Linked DNA regions of Homo sapiens. The protein of the gene in region 3 interacts with the protein of the main gene of each other region in a pairwise test. Each region holds a gene or a part of one and is shown on either strand. Other genes may lie near its edges.

Region 1 (7,000 bases), on a different chromosome or scaffold from region 3:
AAGGACTGAAAGTCTGGGATAGGACAGACAATTACTTTCATTTTATACTTGTTGACATTATTTGCTTTAAAAAAGTTAAACCATGTACATTATTACTTTATAAATTAAAAACTCTAGTAAATAATTAAAAACAGCCGACCACCCATGGTCCTGATATAAGGACCCAGGCCTGCGACTCAGCTCTTGAGTCTGCTTATCTCAAAGAGGTCATAGGCACTTCTGGTAGCCCATAATAAGATAAAGTGAATTTCACCACATAAGCATGGTGCTAGTTCCTATTAATTTCAGAGAGATGAGTATAAATTGTGGGAATTAGGGTAAACTCAAGAGGTTTTCGACTAGAAGTACTTTAAGCATCACAGCATTCTGCATTTTGCTATGCTAGGCAAAAAACAAAAACCAATTCCCTCATCCCCAAACACAAACCAAATGCAAAGACCACTTTGATTACTTGTGGAGTAAATGGGGGGCAAAGGAAAAGTGAGAATGGGGTAGCCAAGCTGATAGCAGGCACACAACGAATATTTTCAGAAAAGTACAAATTACCATAATGTAAATTAGGGATTTCAAAGTACCTTTTTTCTGCTATGTCATGCTTTTAGAAGAAGCTGTATATAAAAAATGCATCCAAATTTGTTTCTATGAATCATACAGTGGATACTGCACAGTGAGTTTGTGATACCATTTAATATCAAGAACTTGGTCCAAATATTTGATTTTCATTTGGACACTATGAAGATATGGCTATTTAATTAGCAATGTTTATTTTAATCTTAAGCAATGCAAGAAATTAAAATACCTTGCCAACATTTAATTATGAGAATTCAAGTGCTATTTTGTAACAATGCCTTGAGAAGGTCAAATTTAAGATTGTTTGGCTATCATATGAATTTCCCTTTTAGTACCGGGAACCTAAGACTTTGTAGAGTGCTGCTCACAAATGCCTGGTGTTTGCTGTCCGTTTCCAAACAAGGAATCAACAATGTGATACTTCCTTGAAGGAAAAACACCTGCAGACAGGGCCAAATAAATCATAAAAGGTGCTTCTTTCTTTCAGCTTTGACAGCCTTCACTTGCATTTCAAACTGAGAGTTTCAGGCTGTTTTGAGTGCTTTGAATAGGCAACCACATGTTTGTCACACGTGTGTCCTTCATGCATGAGTTCCTCATTGTCCTGTTCCTTCTGACCCACCCATGCTGAAGCTTCGATGTTTACACTCGCCAGACATTTAGTGAGCAGATGTTGGGCTACAACACTACCACTGGGTTAGGTAGTAGTATTATCCCATTGTAACAGATGACATGGCTGAGGCTCATTGACTTTCAGTGTCCTAAGTCCACAAATTGGCAAATGGGAAAACCAGGGCTTAGCCTGATCCTTTTCCTTTACACTCTTTTTTCGAGATAGTATCCTCTTTATCTATGGCCCCTTCCCTCCCTTCTCTCTCTAGGTTCACTGGTCATCCAGAGCAAAGCAGCAGAGGTGTGGAGAAGGGGCCCTGTGCTTTACCCCATTCCCTTCCCCACAGAAAAGGTAGAGGGGAAGAAACATTCAGGGCTCAGAGCTTCTACCACACTTGGCACTGTTCCTATTTCCATACTTTGCCCGGGACACTCAGGCCAGAACTTCAGCCCTCACCCTGTTCTGTAACTTTCTTCCCAGATCATGGGAGGCACTATGGGTAATTGTTGCTAGTGCAGTTCCTGTAGTAGCAGAAGTGTCCTGAACAGCATCATTCCAAACTGTGAAAAGATTTTTCTACAGCAGCACAGCTCCCACAGCTCTCACAGTTCATGGTCCTTCTGAGTATTGTCAAGACTGTGCTTGGGCTTAGTAGGGGTTGAACTGGCTTCCACCTGCTAGCCTGGAAACCTAAGCACGATTAAAAGCGTTGCTTCCATCGTAAAAGCAGGTTTCTTAATTAAATCAATGGGAAACCAGTTTGAGTTCTCCATGACCGATACATGAATGAATTTTTGAAACAAAATACATTCATAGTTGGGGATTTAATCTTTACCCTCCAACTTTCTATCAATATGTCTGTAAGACTGAAAGAACTATTATTATTGTGTTTAATACAAAATAGAAAAAGACATATTCTGAATTCAAAAACAAAGTTTCCTTTAATTCATGTTTTTCTCTCTCACTCTTTAAGCTTTATTTTTTAAAGTATAATTTCATTCAACTCCAAGGAAATCTGCATTTTAACAATATTATTAAATGATCCTACTATTTTACCCACATATTTTATTGCTGAGCCAGTGTTTGTCTTACCTCCTCGATGGATAATCAAAGAAGTTTCACTTCCAATGGGACAGTCCTTAAGTATATCCACTACTTCTGTATGGCTCAGGTTCTGTACATTCTGCTGGTTGATCTCAACAATGAGGTCGCCTTCACACAGGCCAGGGCATCCCTGAATGTCAAGTATTTGTTTCACCCGCTGTCCTGTAGGACTGTCGGCAATAGTGAAGCCGAAGCCCTGGGCACCTTTCACAATGGTTAAGGTCATAAGTTCAGCTTGGGTGGCCCCAGATGAAGCCATAGACACATTGTCATCATGGACGGGCGGTGGATACGTGCCGTCTAGCTGACCATCAGTTGGCATGGAGTGCAGAGAATGAGGCGGCCGATCTGTTATATCTGGAACTGACTGTGAGGTCCGAGAAATGTACTCCAAATATGTTTCATAGTTGTGTCTTCCATTGACCATCACTGGAGGTGGCCTCTCCATTATTGCAAGGGGTGGCACCATGCTGTTAGCAGGGTCTTCAGGATCAAAGGGCAAAGGGTAGCCACGACACAACACCAGGTTGACACTCTGACCAATAGGAACAGACTGGAAAAGTTTGACAACATCTGCATGAGTGTGTCCAAGGACACAAACTTCATTAATATAGACAATGACATCACCTGTAAGAAAAAAAGAGATTGACAACATGAGGTAAGTTCAATTAACATTGACATAGAGAAATGGAATTATTTACGAGACTAGTGAGAGGTGTTGTTTCTTAGTAAGCAGTGAGAAATCAATTAGAATAATACTTAAAATCACTGTGGGTGACTCAAGGTTACAACAGGACTGCCAGCAAATACAATGATGAAGTGCTGAAAAAAAGCTATTTGGTTATTCTTGAAGTTCAGAAACAACTTCATATTCAGAAACAAAGGCTCTGAAAGAAAAGGTTAGAGGAATGTGTACCTTGAAGAAGCACATTCTCTATGCTTCTTTTTCATCTTATATTCCATCTTCAGTGTAATTCAGTTAATATAATTTTCGAACTATTGAGAAGTAGTGGTCATGAGTTTTAGACGAAAAACAAAGCCCTAGCATATTTTTTTTTGTATAAGTTGAATAAGTCAATTGCCTTTTTTCTTTTTTATGGAACAGAAAAATATTTGCCCATTTATTTTTTTCCATCTATAGCAGGTAATTACAAAGCTTCCATGTATATGCGAGCAAAGGTCAAGGGTGCAGGTTTTGGGATTAGGGAGCTGGGTTGACACCTTGGCTCTACTATTTAACAGATACATGATATTGACCAAGTTCCCTGCTTTGAGCCACAGTTCCTCATTTGTAAAGTTGTGAGAATGAAATGACATAATGTAGGAAAAGTACTTGGCATAGTGTATGACACACAGTGCTCAATAAATGTGGACTATTATTAATATGATTGTTGTTAAAATAGGATGGAGGAGATTTGGGTCCCTTGGTTTCAAACAGAAAGTTGCCACAGTTCATCCTCTGATCTTAGATAAACTAATATTTCTGTGGATCAGTTTCAATAAAGGCACTTGTCCTTTCTCCCCAGTGAACTATCACAGATTTTCAGAGGTCTACTGGTTAGAGGCTAACTTTATGATTAGAAATGCTCTGAATGCAAATTATCCATTATAAAATATATTCAGAGAAATATTTTTTCCTGCTTAAAATGCAGAAAATCATGGCTGTTTGAGATAAATGTTTTTTTAAAAATTTCAATTATGTATGAATAACAATTTTATTTTTGGAGAACTATTTTATCATGGATTGGTATTTTTATCTTCACAAACCATAATACTTGAAAATTGAGCTTGCAAATTGAGATTGTGCCTGACTATGCTGAGGAGTATATTAGGGATGAAGAGACATGTTTTCACAGATCTTGAAATAAGCAACTCAACAGACATCAGTTTATCAGAATAATTCTGGAATGGGAGGTACAAATGGCTAGGGATTTCATTCTGAGACATCCTTGCCCAGCAAGCTTGCAAACGTTAAAAATGAAAAACAGAGTTGAACTTTTAGAGTTGACAACTTTTCTGGTCTTTTGTAGGTGTATAACATAAAATGAATAAAACAATTAACAGCATTGTCTTAATTAACAGTCCCTCTTCCCAAATTGACAGAGAGGCCAAGCAGACATTTTCAGGGATCCAGGTTAGGTCTGCCTCTAGAAAATGTCACAACCTATGTGATTGGTCAGATGGAACTTCACTTTTCCATAATGTCTATCAGAGAGGGTACTGATGTGGTGGCTGGAACGTGGGTCCACGGCTCAGAACTGAATTGGAGTGGACATTCCCTCACTGTTATTATAATTCCTCTTCAGACTGTGGCAGCTGGGGATGCTTTGGGAATCGTTTTTAATTGATTCCATTCATCTCAGTGTCCCAGAGAAGTGTCTGATTCAGATAGACTATTTTTCTCTCCTGTTTCTTTTAGTTTTAATGTTATATTTTCTACATTTAAAAGGTTGAAAGAACAACAAATACTTGTATACTAACATCCAACTTAATGATTGGAACATTGCTCATATTAGTTGAATCCCCCTTGGCTAGCACCTCTCCCCCAACTTGCACTCCTTTACAGCCCTTTCCAAGGTAACCATTGCCCTATTTGAGGTTTGTTATTTACATATACCTTTATAATTTATATCATATCTAGGTGTCCGTAAAAACAATATCTCTAAATAGTATCTAATCTCTAAATAATAATAATCCCTGGAAAGTATTTTACATATTTTAAGCCTTTTGTAAATGGTATATATTTTAATATTCTGTAACTTTTCTTAAAATATGTTTGTGATATTTATCTATTTTGATACTTGTGCCTCTAGTTGATTAGTTTTCATTGTAATACAGTATTTAGTGATGGCTATATTACTACTTAATAACATTCATCCATTCTTTTGTTAATGGACACCGGAGTTATGACAAATCTGTGGCTATTGAAAATAACTCTGCTATGAACCCCATGCTGGCACAGACCATGTGCATCTTCAACTTTGTTAGATAGTGGCAAATGGCTGACAAAAGAGGTCACATTGATTTACACTCTGATCGGTAGTGTGTTGAAATTTTCATTGCTTTACATCTGACACAGTACTTCGTATTCTCAGACTTAATTTTTACCAATCTAATGGATGTGATCATAGTTTTGATTTGCATTTCCCAGACTGCCAGTGAAGGTGAGCATCTTTTCATGTTTATTGGCCTTTTGGATTTTCTCTTGGGTATGCCTCATTTCCTCAATTTCCTATTCAGTGAGTTTTTTTTAACTCATTGACTATTTTTTATGTCTACTTTCATTCTTGCTCCAACATTCTTCTTAGGTTCAGGAGGCTGCAAGGTATAGTAGAGATCACATGGGATATGAGGTCAAAAGACTTTGGTCTGAGTTCTAGTTTCATCACTTATTAGCTGTATAACTTTCCCAAACTGGCTTCAATCCTCTGTGACTCAGATTTTTTAGAAGTAATGATGAACAATAGTAATAGCAACTTATTGTTCCATGGGAAATAACGAATGAGATCATACAGGTGAAAGGGTTTCTAAGCTGTAAATTGTTATGCAAAAGATGATTGCTATTTCAGTAATTACTCTTTGTCCTTTGTTATATTCTTCTATAAAATCAGGACAGTTCTACCCAGATATTCCCACCACAGTTACAGTCAAGGATGACTTGAGTATGATTGTGGAAACAATGGGTTTCTGAATGGCCAAGTAAAAGTCAGAGAGGTAACAAATGCCACTTCCTCTAAGGCTCTCCCTAACTTTAATCACTGTTAACAGACTCCCCAGTCCCCAAGCACGCTCTCTCCTTCCCTCTGCTCTGCCAGAATTTCACGGGAAAGAACTAAGGGTTATGTTGAAAGCTCTCAAGTTTCCCTGCCAGGTCTAGAGAGTAGTAGTTTGAATTGTAGTGATTAATGTTACCTATTTTTGAGTTTTAATGTGATCTTGCTATTTAGAAACAGAGTGAGAACTATTTGTGTTTCTTAGTAAGACTGCCTTTTACAATTTATGGATATTTTCCACTAACAGCAATTTTTCAAGTCATCAGGCAAGGATAAAGAACACTGCAACAATATCTTTATGAAGATACGTAGAAGATTTCTGAATGTAAAAGATGAGTGGTCAGTTATCACAGGATAAAACTATATAACAACTTGATGGTACTCAACTGCCCACTTTAAAAAAATATATAGATGTCTAGATAATAAGTCATGCCCAAAACTCTTATAGACGGGGATGTCAGCAAACATTTGCTTGTTCAGATAGAACTTATTGGATAGAATATTAATAGACTGTGCTGTATGAATGTCATTTACATGTCGTGAAATAAAAATATAAGACACCTGGTATATGTCATCTGACGGTGCCATGCCAAGTCCTCAGACAGATTGGGTTTAAGAGCACAGAAAGGGACATCATCAGGAAGACTGGCTCTGGCTCTAACCTGTTGGCCTACTTAAGACGGAGAATTGGAAGAGTCACTTGATCTCCCCATCTCTCAATTTCTTCTTTTATAAAATGGGAATAAAAATATCTCTTACATTTCCTCTTTTGCAGAGCTACTGTGAAAATGAGATCATCCTTGTGAAAATACTTATAATTTTATCAAATTTTTTCTCCATAAAAATAAGAAGATACATTTCTTTTGAAAGCTAAGCATATATTTTCATTACTACATTGCTGGAAAATTTACTTTGTTTGCTAAATGGTCATTCACTTCAG
Region 2 (6,971 bases), on a different chromosome or scaffold from region 3:
TTCTTGCACGCCCCCAAAACTTGGGTTCCCATCTTCTCAAATCCTTGCATTTACCAGAAAGAGTTCACCATCCAAATCTTAAAAAGGCAAGTGCACTAATTCTCAAACTCCAAGAGGATGAAAAGGGAAGAAGGGCAGCCATGTAAACCATTCCAATTCCTCACCTTGACACACCTCAGTTCTCCCTTTCCAAGGGTCAAACTGCAGAGAGGCCAACAGAAAGGAGGAAGGAGGTCTGAACTGGCCGTACATCCTTTGTGGCTGTCTGCCTCCTCTTCTCCACTGCCAAGTCAGTTCCCATCTAGGGACTGCTGAACTAATCTAAATGGGACTCTGAGGCAATACAGAGATTAGTGCTTGAGAGAGAGAGATTATATGCATTTTAGGCCACATTCCACAACCAAAAGGAAATTATTATTAGCATGGATAACCGAAGGTGGACTGGGCATGGAGGGAACAATTGCTCCCTTGCAAATATTCTTCCCTATCTCTCCAATAATATTTTTTTCCAGGCCCAGTCCTTTCATTTGCTTGTTCAGTCCTTCAACCACCCATCTATCCAGTTAGGATGTGTGCAGTGCCCACAAAACACACCCCCCACAGCAAGGTTCTCATGGGGAGAAGCGTTGAGGAGGGGTAGGGGAGGGAAGGAAAAGGCAGACACCTTACAAAGTTGTACCAATCATTTGGAGGTAAGAATTGCAACCACACAGTAACATTACCAGTGATAGAGGTGGCTGGGCAGACTCTTGGGGCAAGGGGTGTCATGTGTTCAGACTCTGAGGGCCAGTGCTGCTGCCCAGCAGGCCTACGAGCCCAAAACAATTTCTTCTGGCTCCAGGCAGAGGGAAGGCCCATTTTGCAGAGTCAAGCTTATTAAGAACAGCTTGGAAGATTAAACCTAGAGCATCAGCCGGTTGGCAGGTCTCAATTCAAACTCTAAGCTTGGAGGAGAGGAAATTCTAATGTGATCTATGCATTTTGGGACCATGTCAGCTACTGGTAAAAATCCAGACTTGCATGGGTGCAAAGGATGTTTCTGTCCCATCATTCAGGCCAAGAACATCCTCTTCATTTCTAGAAATGGGATCCACCCCGTCACCAAGCCCCACCATTCCATACCAACCAGCCTGGTGGAGGCCCACGCCTCTGCCAGGGCCCTTCTCCCAGCAGCTCCAACACCTAAAGCCAGTCCCCCTAGTGCAACCCTAGGAGCTCACAAGACTGGCTTGCCCCCACCTGAGACTAGCAAGTTGGGTGGACTCAAATTCAGCCTCTACCCTGGCAAAAGTCAAAAGCCACTGGAAGCACATCCTCCTCCTTTCCCTCTCCTGGCTTCACTGTTTATTGCTTATATTCAAAAGACGCTGAATCAAGAGCTATGTTTTTGCACATAACCACATAGGCTGACAGTCCCCAGAGACTAATGCTCCTAGCCCACCAATTCCCATAGCCCACCCAGACCCCTATTTTCAACCATTTATTAAAATGCAACACCACCCCTCCCAGTCTTTCCTTTAGTCAATGTTGAAAAATCAAATTATTAGCAAACCTACCTGTCTATACTCTGGGGTAACCTTACACTCATGGTTTCTCGGTGTCTCCACGGTTCCAGAATCCTGTAGCTTTGGTGTCTTGATCAGGATTGAATCGCTTGCAATTTTTGAGCAAGGTGAGAGGAGGGCCTCCCAACTTGAAGATAGAATCCTTTCTCCTCCAGCTCTCAGGACCCTGGTAACTGATGCTCCACTCTACTTCTACCAGTGAACATGATTTCCTTTCTCAGCCCCTCTTCCCCTCCCCCGCTTTAAAAAAAAAGAAAAGAAAAGAAAAAAGAAAAAAAAAGGAAAAGAGGAAAAACTACGACCTTCTCAGAAACCAAAAACCCAGCCACGAATCTCTTCAAGGTTAGCACTATGGCCAAAAAAAAATGAATCACAGAAAAATGTGCCTTCAAAATATCACTGTTAACTGCAAAGTACAGATAAAACCATCCTTTAAATCCAGCTTTCTCAGCTGTCCTTCTGTTGGCAAGAGACCCTCTAGCTCAAAGGGGGAAAGTAATTTTCTAGTCTCCAATGCTTAATATGACAACAGCAAATATCTTTGAGGAAAGGAAAAAAAAAAGGATTAATAAATCCGAAATGGCACTTGGAAAAATTCTTTCGGCTGATTTGTACAGTAAAATAATAAATAAAACCATACAATAGTATGTACACAACAGCACTCCTTCCAAGTCCAGTGCAACCCTGGGAACCAAAATTTATGGACTTCCTTAAAAAAAAAAAAGCTTTTACATTAAATGTTTTGAAATTCTTAAATGAGCCAATTGCACCAAAAAAAAAAATAAAATAAAAATCAAAGAACACCTGAAATGCAATGCTTTTTACCTTTAAGATGGTAGTAATGATAACAAACCAGAGATAATCTCTGAAAATATTCTCTCCTTTTCTTTTTCCTTTAAACTTGCAGGTTCCTCCACCTACCCCAGCCTGATTCTCAGACCCAGCCTACGTTCGGCCTTTTTCTGAAAGACAATTTCCTGAGTTAGTTCTGCTGTTGGGCTCCTCCACATCCAGGCTCCGAAATTTTCTCTTGCCTCAGCCTCCATGAAACGGAGATTTCGCTTCCTCCCGTTCCCCCTTCTCTCTCCCTCTCTCTCGCCCGGCCAGAAAGACGGCTCCCTTATTATTCGTTCGGATTATTATTGTGGATTTGAGTTCGAGGTGGGTTTTTCTTCCACACCAGACTCCTGGAAAATCCGATCGCCTGTCTCCTCTCGGCCTCTCCTTGCCTCCCTTTCCGCCCCTCGCCTAATCTCGCAGGCAGGAGCCCGCAGTGCCTCGCGCAGGACGCCCGGCCGGGCCTCGGGCTCCCGGCGCCGCTCGCCCCGCGCCCGACCGCCGTGTTCCGGCCTTCGCGGCCGCTCGGGACGCCAGGCTCGGCGCACAGGGAAGGCTGCGGCGGCTGCGGCAGGCCGGCACGAGCGGGCGTCCGACTGCCGGCGTCGCGGCCGCGCTCGCCTCCTTCCGGGCCCCTTCCCCCTCGGTTCGCCGCTCGCTCGGGCGCAGGCCCGGCCGGCCGCCCCCCTTCCCTCCCTCCTTCCCTGCGAGCCTTTCTCCTTCCCTCGCTCCCGCGGGGCGGGGCCGCAGGCTCCTCCTCCTCGCTGCGCTGCCCGCCGCCCGCCGGCCTTTCCCCTCACGCCGCGGCGGCCGGGGGCGGGGGCGGGAAGCTGACCGCCTTTCCCTGCCTCGGTTCCCGCGGCCGCGACTCCCGCCGACCGGCCCGCCCCTGTCCCGGCCTCCCTGCGCGCCCTGCCCCCCACAACCCTTTGCCGTCGCTCCTCGGCCGGTCCCCTCTGCGGCCCCTCAGTCGCCGGCCCTGCCCCTCGGCGCGGCCTAGCGGGTTCCCATCTCAGCCGGATCCCCGGCCCGGCCCGCGGGCGACCCCGGCCCTGACCCCGCCAGGCACCGCGCGCCGTCCCCGCCGCCGCCACCGCCACCGCCACCCCTGCCGCCTTTTCGCCGCTTTTCCTCGGCTGCTTTTCCCCCTTTTATTGACTTCTGCTCGGGAGCCGACCTTTGTTTCCTACCCCCTGCCCGCCCAGCCACCGTGCCCGCGCCCCGTGCCCCTGCCCACGGGTGCAGGTTTACCTCTTTGCGTCCACCGGCATTACCCCGGCGCCCGCAGCTGCGGCTCACCCTCTCTCCACCTCTCTTCTGATCTTATTTTTCAAACATTTGTTGCGGCCTCCTTCGTGGTGTCAGTTCTTTTAACTGTTTCCTCCCGTTTCTGTGGTCCTTCCCACTTCTAATACCACCGACTTAGGGGGAAGACCCTTCGCTGTTTCCTCTCGGGTTGGGTTGGGCATCTTAATAGCAGGCTGTGTGAAGTGTCTTTGAACTCTATGGAAGAGCCTTTCCAGAGCAATTCTATTTTCATAACCCCCTCTCATAGAATCACAGTTTCTAAATCTTTACAAGTAACGTGACATTTGTCAGAAGGTGCCGAGCGTTATGATTAAAAATCATTAAGGCCGAGGCGGGGCCTGAGGTCAGGAGTTCGAGACCATCCTGGGCCAACATGGTGAAACCCCCCCCCTCTACTAAAAATACAAAACTAGCCGTACGTGGTGGCGCGTGCCTGTAATCCCAGCTACTCGGTAGGCTAGGGCACGAGAATCGCTTGAACCCGGGAGGCGGAGCTTGCAGTGAGCCGAGATTGCGCCACTGCACTCCAGTCTGGGCAACAGAGCGAGACTCCGTCTCAAAAAACTAATAATAATAAAATTTTTTTTAAAAAATTATTAAAATAAAAAAACTCTCACTAGGATTGGGGAGTGGACTTTGCCTTCTTGCCTAGGTAAATGCCATTGTAAAATACTCTGCAGGCAGTGGGGTGTTTGCATAAGTTCTCTCCTTTCACACTACCTGGATTGTTCTGGGAGGGGGTGGATATGTATATGTAAATTATCTATACACATTCGTGAGCTCTGGAGTGACCTCACCAGTGTTAGAAGTGGTAGATATGCAAATTGCAAGAGGAAAAAGAAACGAATAAGCATCAGTTGAAGACCTACTATGAACCAGGAACTTTCCCTTTAATGTATATCAGGTATAGGTTGGCAAATAAAAGAACCTGCTTCCTTCACCCTGTCTCCACCAACCCCTAGGCCAGAACTCCCCAAAACAGGTGATCTGCCCAGCATTTGAAGCACAGTCTAGATTGTTGCTGACTTAATTGTGTCTTTCTTTCCCATACTACCCGCAAAAATGATGCTCTCAAATGTGGACACTGCTCTGTGGTGACAGACCACTGGTTGCCACACATTTTAAAATAATGTTTTCTTGGCCAGGTGCGGTGGCTCACGCCTGTAATCCCAGCACTTTGGGAGACCGAGGCGAGTGGATCACCTCAAGTCAGAAGTTCGAGACCAGCCTGGCCAACATGGTGAAACCCCGTCTCTACTAAAAATACAAAAAATTAGCTGGGTATGGTGGGGAGCGCCTGTAATCCTAGCTACTCCGGAGGTTGAGGCAGGAGAATCGCTTGAACCCGGGAGGCAGAGGTTGCAATCAGCCAAGATTGCGCCACTGCACACCAGCCTGGGTGACGAGTGAAACTCCATCTCAAAATGATAATAATAATGATAATGTGTTCTTAATATATGTAATATTTTTAAAGCAAGTATTTACATATATTTTATTACATATCTTATACAACATTGCCTAGTGTAGAAATATTAAAAGGTTGAAATTTAAAAATGAACATTTTTTAAATCATGCTTTTTGGTGAAAGTTAATTGCTGTCATAACTGGAAAAGATGCTTGCCAAAGATAGGTAGATTCAAACAGAAGAAGTATGCCCTTGATTGCATTTATTAAATCATGATACTTATTTTCCAATCCCATTCATCAACAATGCAAAGACTTCTAATTGAAATTCAACTAGTAAATTTATATCTTAAGTCAATCCTTCTTGAATGATTGGAAGGTGTTACATTTTTATATTCTTAACAAATGGGTTCCAGCCATTAAGAAATTTCATTTAACTTTAAAAAATAGGTTTTCAAATTCTGTTTCCTAATTTTTCAGTGTGCAAAGGTTTTGATAGGTGAAACCATTGTTTTTGGTAATTAAAAAAATCACAATATTGGAACCATTTCCAGTCATCCGTCTTCAAAATACTTTTTCCTAAAGTATGTGTTTCTTTAGAAAAGCAGTGACTTCCTCGCTCGTAGATAGACTGTCATCTTAACCTTGAAGGGACAGCTTGAAGGGACAGATTAAGCGGTGTTTTTGTTGTTTGTTTTTGTTTTTGCAAGTAAGTGCTAGGTAGCATACTCTTGACAGCCATTTCTCATCATAGAACACTGAAATAAAACTGTGCATCTCCTCCATGTTCAGTATTTCATTTTAGGCTTTCCCCAGGAGATTGTTAATCTGCACAGCAAAGATTTTCATGGTCATTCTCTGTCATTACAAAGAATTGTAAAGTTTGTAGCAGTTAACAGGCTTGTTTTTGTCTGGTGGGTGGCGTACATCATGAAGAAAATGAACGTCAATGGTGATGTTACCTCTGGTTCTTGGAACCTCCTCATATACTGTGTGTGACAGATGACTTCTGACATAGTGACTGAGTGAGAATGCCATGTCATTAGTGTTAGTAAAACCTAATTATTTTTGCTATAATTAAATACTATTATGAGTGCATTCTTTTTTTTTTTTTTTTTTTTTTTTTGAGACGGAGTCTCGCTCTGTCGCCGAGACTGGAGTGCAGTGGCACAATCTTGGCTCACTGCAAGCTCCGCCTCCCAGGTTCACACCATTCTCTTGCCTCAGCCTCCCGAGTAGCTGGGACTACAGGCGCCCGCCACCACGCCCGGCTAATTTTTTGTATTTTTAGTAGAGATGGGGTTTCACTGTGTTAGCCATGATGGTCTCGATCTCCTGACCTCGTGATCCACCCGCCTCGGCCATGAGTGCATTCTTAAGTATTTTCCTCAAGCATCTCCTTGAACACTCCACTTTGAAGATTATGAGGGTGGCTTTAGTAAGATAGAGTTCCCTGAAGTTAGTTGGCCATTTAAGTAAACTGCAAGTCTCAGGTTAAAAAACAAAATAGATTAGATTGTGTCCTAGACAGACTGGGTTGTAGGAATCTGGAGGCAGCTGGTGATCAATGGAAAGAGCTAGACTAGACTAGGAGTCCGGAGAACTAGATAACTTTGTGAACTGCCATCTGCAGTTTGTAAGGATTTAATATGAACAAGCCTGGGCTCTGTAAGCTATAGAGTGCTGGGCAGGAAAATCAGGATAAATCTTAGGGAGCGTTACCTTAAAACAACCTTGTCCAACCTGGGGCCTGCAGGCCACATGTGGCCGAGGACAACTTGGAATGCAGCCCAACACAAATTCATAAACTTTCTTAAAACATTATGAGATTTTTTAAAAGCTCATTAGCTATCGTTA
Region 3 (5,702 bases):
TTTGTCCCAAGATATTGGTGCAGTGTCCCTGTACCAGGGTCCGTGAACTGGTAGGGGTGGGCCAGGCATTGCTGGAGGGGCCAGCGAGGTCAGAGAGTGGGAGGGAAAGTGAAGCCCGGGTACCTGATGGCCTCTCTTTGTCTGTGGGTAGCAGGTTATAGGCATGGGGCTGAGGGACTCTCAGTCAGGAGAGCACTGAGTCAGCTCCTGCAGGGAACAGCAGGGGCTGGGGATTGGGCCCTTTGTCAAAAGACATTTCTGGCCAGGCGCGGTGGCTCATGCCTGTGATCCCAGCACTTTGGGAGGCTGAGGCGGGCAGATCACCTGAAGTCAGGAGTTTTGAGACCAGCCTGTCCGACATGGGGAAACCCTGTCTTTACTAAAAATACCAAAATTAGTCGGGTGTGGTGGCACACGCCTGTAGTCCCAGCTACTCGGGAGGCTGAGGCAGGAGAATTGCTTGAACTCCGGGAAAAAGAGGTTGCAGTGAGCCGAGATTGCGCCACTGCACTCCAGCCTGGGAGAGAGAGCGAGACTCCGTCTCAAAATAAAATAAAAAGACATATTTCTATTTTATTTCCGGATGTGATTTTCCAGCAGGCAAATAAATACAATGGGGAGAGGGGGAAGGAGGGGGATCCTTATAAATTAGAAACAATCTCAGGTGGGGGGAAGGTGGGTGGGCTGGCAGGGGAGGTGGCAGGCAGGGAGCCCACTGCTGGGCACAGTGCCTGGCTTTGCACCCTGTGCCCCCAGGCTCTGCCAGCTCCCCTCAGTGGCTGGCTCGGTTCCGGGGTCATAAGGCGCTGCGGTGTTGGTGGATCCGGCTTGCTGCTGTCTGAGCCAGAGCTCACAGGTCAGTCACTTTGTTTTCCACCAGGGCGGCGACCTGCTGCAGGCGGCAGGCCAGCTGCAGCTTCTGGCCCACAGGGTCCTCCTCCAGGGCACTGATAATCTGCCCGGGCAGAGGAGGGTGCCTGTCTGAGCCTGCCCCTCTGCCTGCTGGCCCAGGGCCACCCACCCTGCTTCCATCACCGCAGGAGCCTGGGGATCCAGCAGGGGCTGCCTGGCGTCTCCCTGGGGAATCAGAATGAAAGCCGAGTCCCTTCCCCAGCCTGGGCCCCGCCAGCATGGGCTGGCACCCCTGCTCCCCCGGGAGGGTCCACGGGCCTCCCGCTCCACTGTGCCTCCCCTCCGGAGTGCCCTGGGCCTCACCTGATCATAGTACCTGTGGATGTGGTTGTAGAGTTCTTGCAGAGCCTCCAGACAGTGGGGAGCAGAAGTGTAGTTCTGGGGGCACCACGTGGAGGGGGGCAGTGAGGTCCCAGCCTGGTCCTCAAGCCCCAAGTCTCCCCCCTCTGCTCTGCTAGTCTTTCCACCCACGTGTGGACAGGCGCACCCCCCGGGCCATGCCTCACCCCGGAGAGCTCAGCCAAAGCAGAGTTCATCTCCTGGTAGCTCGCCGGAGAGCTCTGGCGAATGTCCGCATAGTACCTGGAGGAGCAGACTTCGTTAGGGGTGGGGCAGCCCCCTTCCCCGCAGCCCCGATGCCTCTGACACCCACCTCTCCACCATCTGCTTGTAGCGTGGGATCTCCCGGGCGTAGAGCAGTTTGTTCACTGGGGAATCCTGCTCCGGAGGGAGGGGAGGCGCTAGGCATGAGCTCGGAGGTGAAGGTGCCCCCATGATGCTGCCACTGCCCACCCAGAGCTCTGTGCACAGCCCTCTAGGCTTCCCCCATAAGCCTTTCCTCCTCAAGCCCCTGCCAGCTGCTGCTGCTGGCACTGCTCTCACCCGGCCCACTTTATGCTCCGAGGTGGTACAGGAGTCAATGAAGGTCTGGGCGATGACAGCAAGGATGGCGTCCACATTGTCCGACACCCGTACATCAAAGATGAGCTGTGGGTTCTTCAAGGCATTCACCCAGAACCGCAGCAGCAGACTGGGGGCGCAGGGCAGGCGTGGGCGTGAGGCCCTGGCCTGCCATCGTGATCTCCGCCCCATGTACTCCAGCCTACTGGCAACACACTCGGAGCCAGGGGCCGCTGGAAGCTGGCCTGGTGGCCTAGGTGACCTGGGCCCTAGATCTTCCTGTAAGTTCCAGAAACCCCAGGTGGGCGCATCCACCCTGGGAATGTCCTGGTCTCTCTGGGACTCAGTGGACCATATGCACAGCAGGGGTGGGGCAGCAGGAAAGGCACCTGTTGGTCTTCCAGATGTGCAGGGTCCCTGGGTCCTCGATGCCGTGCTTCTCTGCTAGCTCATCCAGAAGGTCAAACAGGTACTTGACGGCGATGGGGATGGGCCGGTTCACGCTGAGAATGGCCTGGAAGGTGTCGTCCACAAACTTCTGCAGCGTGCCCTGCGAGGCAGGGGATAAGGGCTGTGTGGAGGGCAGGGTGTGGGGGCCATCCACGGCTGAGGCTGCCCCTGCCCCTCCCACACCCTGGCTCGGTCGGGGTCCCTGGCTGAGCCTCCTCTCAGGCCCAGCCACCCAGGCCGCACCAACCTTCATGGACAGCAGACGGGTGAGGTAGATTTCCGGAATGGCCTTGGCCCTTGCTGGCTCGCGCTCCCGCAGGCTGCTGCACCGCACCTTGGCCCCTTCTGGCTCCTCGGTGGCTTTCACCAGGTGCCAGAGGCACACCCCCCCCTCCTCGCCATCCTCCAGCGTGGGTATGTCTGAGGGCACAGGAGCCTGGCTTCAGGGCTATACCCCCTGCCCCTGGCCTGGGATGCCCAGTCCACTCCCCCGACAAGGTGGGGCAGTGTGGGGACTGGAAGAAAGGAAGGAGATGGGCAGAAGATCTCGGTGGGGTGGGGGATGAAGTTGAGGCAGATGCATGGCCAGGAGTTCTGCCTGCCCAGCCTGGACTCCAGTGGCCCCAGGTCAGGGCCGAGGGACTCACTCTCTCCCAAGGGGCACCTCTGGGCCAGGCTCTGGGAGATGGTGCTGCCACGGTGCAGCTGAGGGACGAGCCCCACTGTTGCTCCATCTGGGACCTGGCAGAGATGGGGAGCGGAGGCTGTGCTGACCCCTAGCCAGGCGCCTACACCGCCCACATCCTGCCCTGCCTCGCCCTTCCCCGCCCCAGACCCGCCCTGCCCTGCCTCGCCTCACCCTGCCCCACCCCATCCCTGCCCTTCCCTGCCTTGCCTCGCCCCGCCCCGCCCCCCATCCCCGCCCCAGCCCCGCCCTGCCTCGCCCCGCCCCATCCTCGCCCTGCCGTGCCTCGCCCCGCCCCAGCCCTGCCCTGCTCTGCCTCGCCCCTCCCCACCCCAGCCCCGCCCTGCCCCGCCTCGCCCCAGCCCCGCCCTGCCTCGCCCCGCCCCAGCCCCGCCCTGCCTCGCCCCGCCCCAGCCCCGCCCTGCCCTGCCTCGCCCTGCCCCGCCCCAGCCCCGCCCTGCCTCGCCCCGTCCCTGCTCACACCTTGTAGTGTTGCAAGGTGTTGAGTCTCTTCCAGTGGTTTTGGGTCACGGAGGTCAAGTCTTCGTCCGATAGGGTCAGGTGACCAGCCAGGCCTGAGCGCCACTCTGGAGGGAGTCAGGGAAGCAGATAGTCTACAGCCTGCTCTCCACGCCCCACACTCATAGTAAGACACAGTTGAGGGGCTCCAGGTGCCGGAGGGGTAGGGAAGGGTCCCTGGGGTGGGTGGGCAGGGCTGGCTCTCTCACCAAGGTCTAGGGCATGCACTGAGGGCCTCTGGGAGAAGGGGGTGCCCTTGTAGACTTGGTCCAACACCTTCTCCTTGACCTGGGTGATGGTGTCCGTGTCGAGCACCCGGGCTGGCACGCGCTGCATCTCGCTGCTGCCTGCGGCCCCGCCAGCCCCGGGCCCCACCAGCACCATCAGCGTCAGGGGCTGGAACTCCACGTCCTCCCGCAGCAAGCGGCTATCATTCAGGGTCCGTTTGGCCTTGCCTGTCACGGCGTCCACGGGGCCTTTGTCCACCTGGTACTGGATGGCCCGGAAGAGCATGTACAGTGGTTCACCAGCCACCTCCTGCACTGCCAAGATGAGCCGGCATCAGCCAAGCGAGGGAGGATTGATGATAGCCCTTCTCGCCTCTGCCTCGTCTCCAGCCCCGGAGAGGGTTCAAAGTCCTTCCCTTTCCAAAGCCCCCCTTGCCGGGCCTTCGTCACGTAGGGCGCAGGCAGTAGCCCCCTCATGGCAAGAGGGGAGGAGTCTGCCACTCAGGGCTGGGAGCAGGCGGGACAGTGCCCCTCACCCTCAGGAAGGCGTACAGGCAGATGGACAGCCAGTTGGTGAGCAGTTTCTCCACCATGGTCTCTGTCCTGCGGGGAGCCGGCCACAGGGTCAGGCCTTTGTGCCTGTGTCCCTGCTGAGGACATCTCACTTTCCTTCCCCCCACCTGCTGGGGCTTCCTGGCCCCACCCGCCCCTGGACAGAGCCCGCCCAGGGTGCGATGGGGGCAGGTCTGTGGCAAGCCCTCACCCCCGCCACCGGGTCCAGGTCAAGGCCAACCTGCGTAGCATGAGCTTGGGGTTCCTGTGCACGTAATGGGCCGCCAGGTCACCCAGCAGGGTCCTCATGATGTCCGTCAGGTACTCCAGCTTGCCGTGTAGCGCTAGCGACAGCAGCGAAGCCACATGGCAGCGATCCCTCTGGGAAAAGCTGGGCTGCTCCTCCAGGGTGTGGATGAGCTGAGCAGGGGTCGGAGGCTCATCCTGGGAAGCCCCACTCCTCCCCCACCTTTGTCTCAGGCCAGTAGTTCCCCAGCCCCACCTCCTTGCCCACTGGGCACTCCCGCCACACGGCCCTCACCGTGAGGAGGAAGAGCTTGCTGTTGAGCAGGTTGGAGAGCTGCGTGAGGCCCTGGCGCACAGTGGCACAGTGGCCGTCCTCCCCTGGCCCCTCAGGCTTGGGCTGCAGCGGGCAACCGCCATGGCCAGGGAAGAAGGCGCGCTCGGCGTAGGTGCGGTAGTCCAGGAAGGGGATCCCGCTGCCCTCCAGGTCGCTGCTGAGGTCGGTCATCTCCGTCATGAGGTCTGCGGGGCCAGGAGGCGCCGAGGTGTGAGTTCAGGCCTCGTGGGTACCCTGTCCCCCCGCCTCCGCACCCACCTGTGAACTCCTTGCGGCACTGGTCTCCCACGCCGGTCTCCAGGCTCTCCAGCTGCACTAGCACCTTCTGGTAGTCCCGCAGGGCCTGCTTGCTCTTGTGCCTGCAGCCCGGGGCCAGCTTCATCAGCCAGGGCCGGGGCCAGCATCAGCCAGGGCCGGGGCCAGGCCAGCCGCCTGCCAGGGCGCCCTTGCCAATGGCGAGGAGGGAAGTGTGCTGGGGGTGGGCGGGTCTCACCTGTACATGAGGGTGAGGAGGAGCACGGCGGCAATCAGCACTGCAGCACCCATGCCCACGCCTGCCTGGGCCTCCACGGGAAAGGCAGACAGCGGGGGTTCAGCCTCGTACTGCACAGGGCCCAGGGCCAGCTGCACATTGCCCATCTGCACCTGGGGGGCGGGCAGGGTTCCTGAGTGCATGCTGGCGGCACCCGGTCCACCTGCCCACCCAGGGCACGGACTCACCACGAACTGTGGCAGGCCGGAGCCATTGGCAGGCTGCGGGGCGTGCGCAGGCGGCTCGCAGTACAGGTGGGTGCGCGTGAGCGTCTTCACCAGGCACTCGCCGCGGCCGATGTGCACGCGCACCTCCTCCTTGCTGATGCCCAGGTTGAGGCCCTCG

Evidence for each region. The genes of interacting proteins can lie anywhere in the genome.
Region 1: the proteins of PLXNB3 (region 3) and MAGI2 interact in a two-hybrid assay, tested with the Homo sapiens proteins (one study listed by BioGRID and IntAct).
Region 2: the proteins of PLXNB3 (region 3) and ARHGEF11 interact in a two-hybrid assay, tested with the Homo sapiens proteins (2 studies listed by BioGRID and IntAct).

Annotation. Positions count from the first base shown.
Region 1 is NC_000007.14:78,253,668-78,260,667, forward strand, and holds part of MAGI2 (membrane-associated guanylate kinase, WW and PDZ domain-containing protein 2), read right to left. Parts: intron 2,915-7,000; coding exon 2,276-2,914; intron 1-2,275. UniProt on the Homo sapiens protein: Seems to act as a scaffold molecule at synaptic junctions by assembling neurotransmitter receptors and cell adhesion proteins. Plays a role in nerve growth factor (NGF)-induced recruitment of RAPGEF2 to late endosomes and neurite outgrowth.
Region 2 is NC_000001.11:157,042,743-157,049,713, forward strand, and holds the start of ARHGEF11 (rho guanine nucleotide exchange factor 11), read right to left. Parts: upstream 3,001-6,971; 5' UTR 1,589-3,000; coding exon 1,557-1,588; intron 318-1,556; exon of another isoform or gene 165-317; intron 1-164. UniProt on the Homo sapiens protein: May play a role in the regulation of RhoA GTPase by guanine nucleotide-binding alpha-12 (GNA12) and alpha-13 (GNA13). Acts as guanine nucleotide exchange factor (GEF) for RhoA GTPase and may act as GTPase-activating protein (GAP) for GNA12 and GNA13.
Region 3 is NC_000023.11:153,774,188-153,779,889, reverse strand, and holds the end of PLXNB3 (plexin-B3 isoform 1 precursor), read right to left. Parts: coding exon 5,546-5,702; intron 5,471-5,545; coding exon 5,319-5,470; intron 5,185-5,318; coding exon 5,084-5,184; intron 5,011-5,083; coding exon 4,787-5,010; intron 4,666-4,786; coding exon 4,487-4,665; intron 4,297-4,486; coding exon 4,230-4,296; intron 4,004-4,229; coding exon 3,676-4,003; intron 3,535-3,675; coding exon 3,431-3,534; intron 3,004-3,430; coding exon 2,910-3,003; intron 2,683-2,909; coding exon 2,510-2,682; intron 2,363-2,509; coding exon 2,202-2,362; intron 1,943-2,201; coding exon 1,795-1,942; intron 1,630-1,794; coding exon 1,565-1,629; intron 1,495-1,564; coding exon 1,419-1,494; intron 1,291-1,418; coding exon 1,216-1,290; intron 956-1,215; coding exon 851-955; 3' UTR 549-850; downstream 1-548. UniProt on the Homo sapiens protein: Receptor for SEMA5A that plays a role in axon guidance, invasive growth and cell migration. Stimulates neurite outgrowth and mediates Ca(2+)/Mg(2+)-dependent cell aggregation.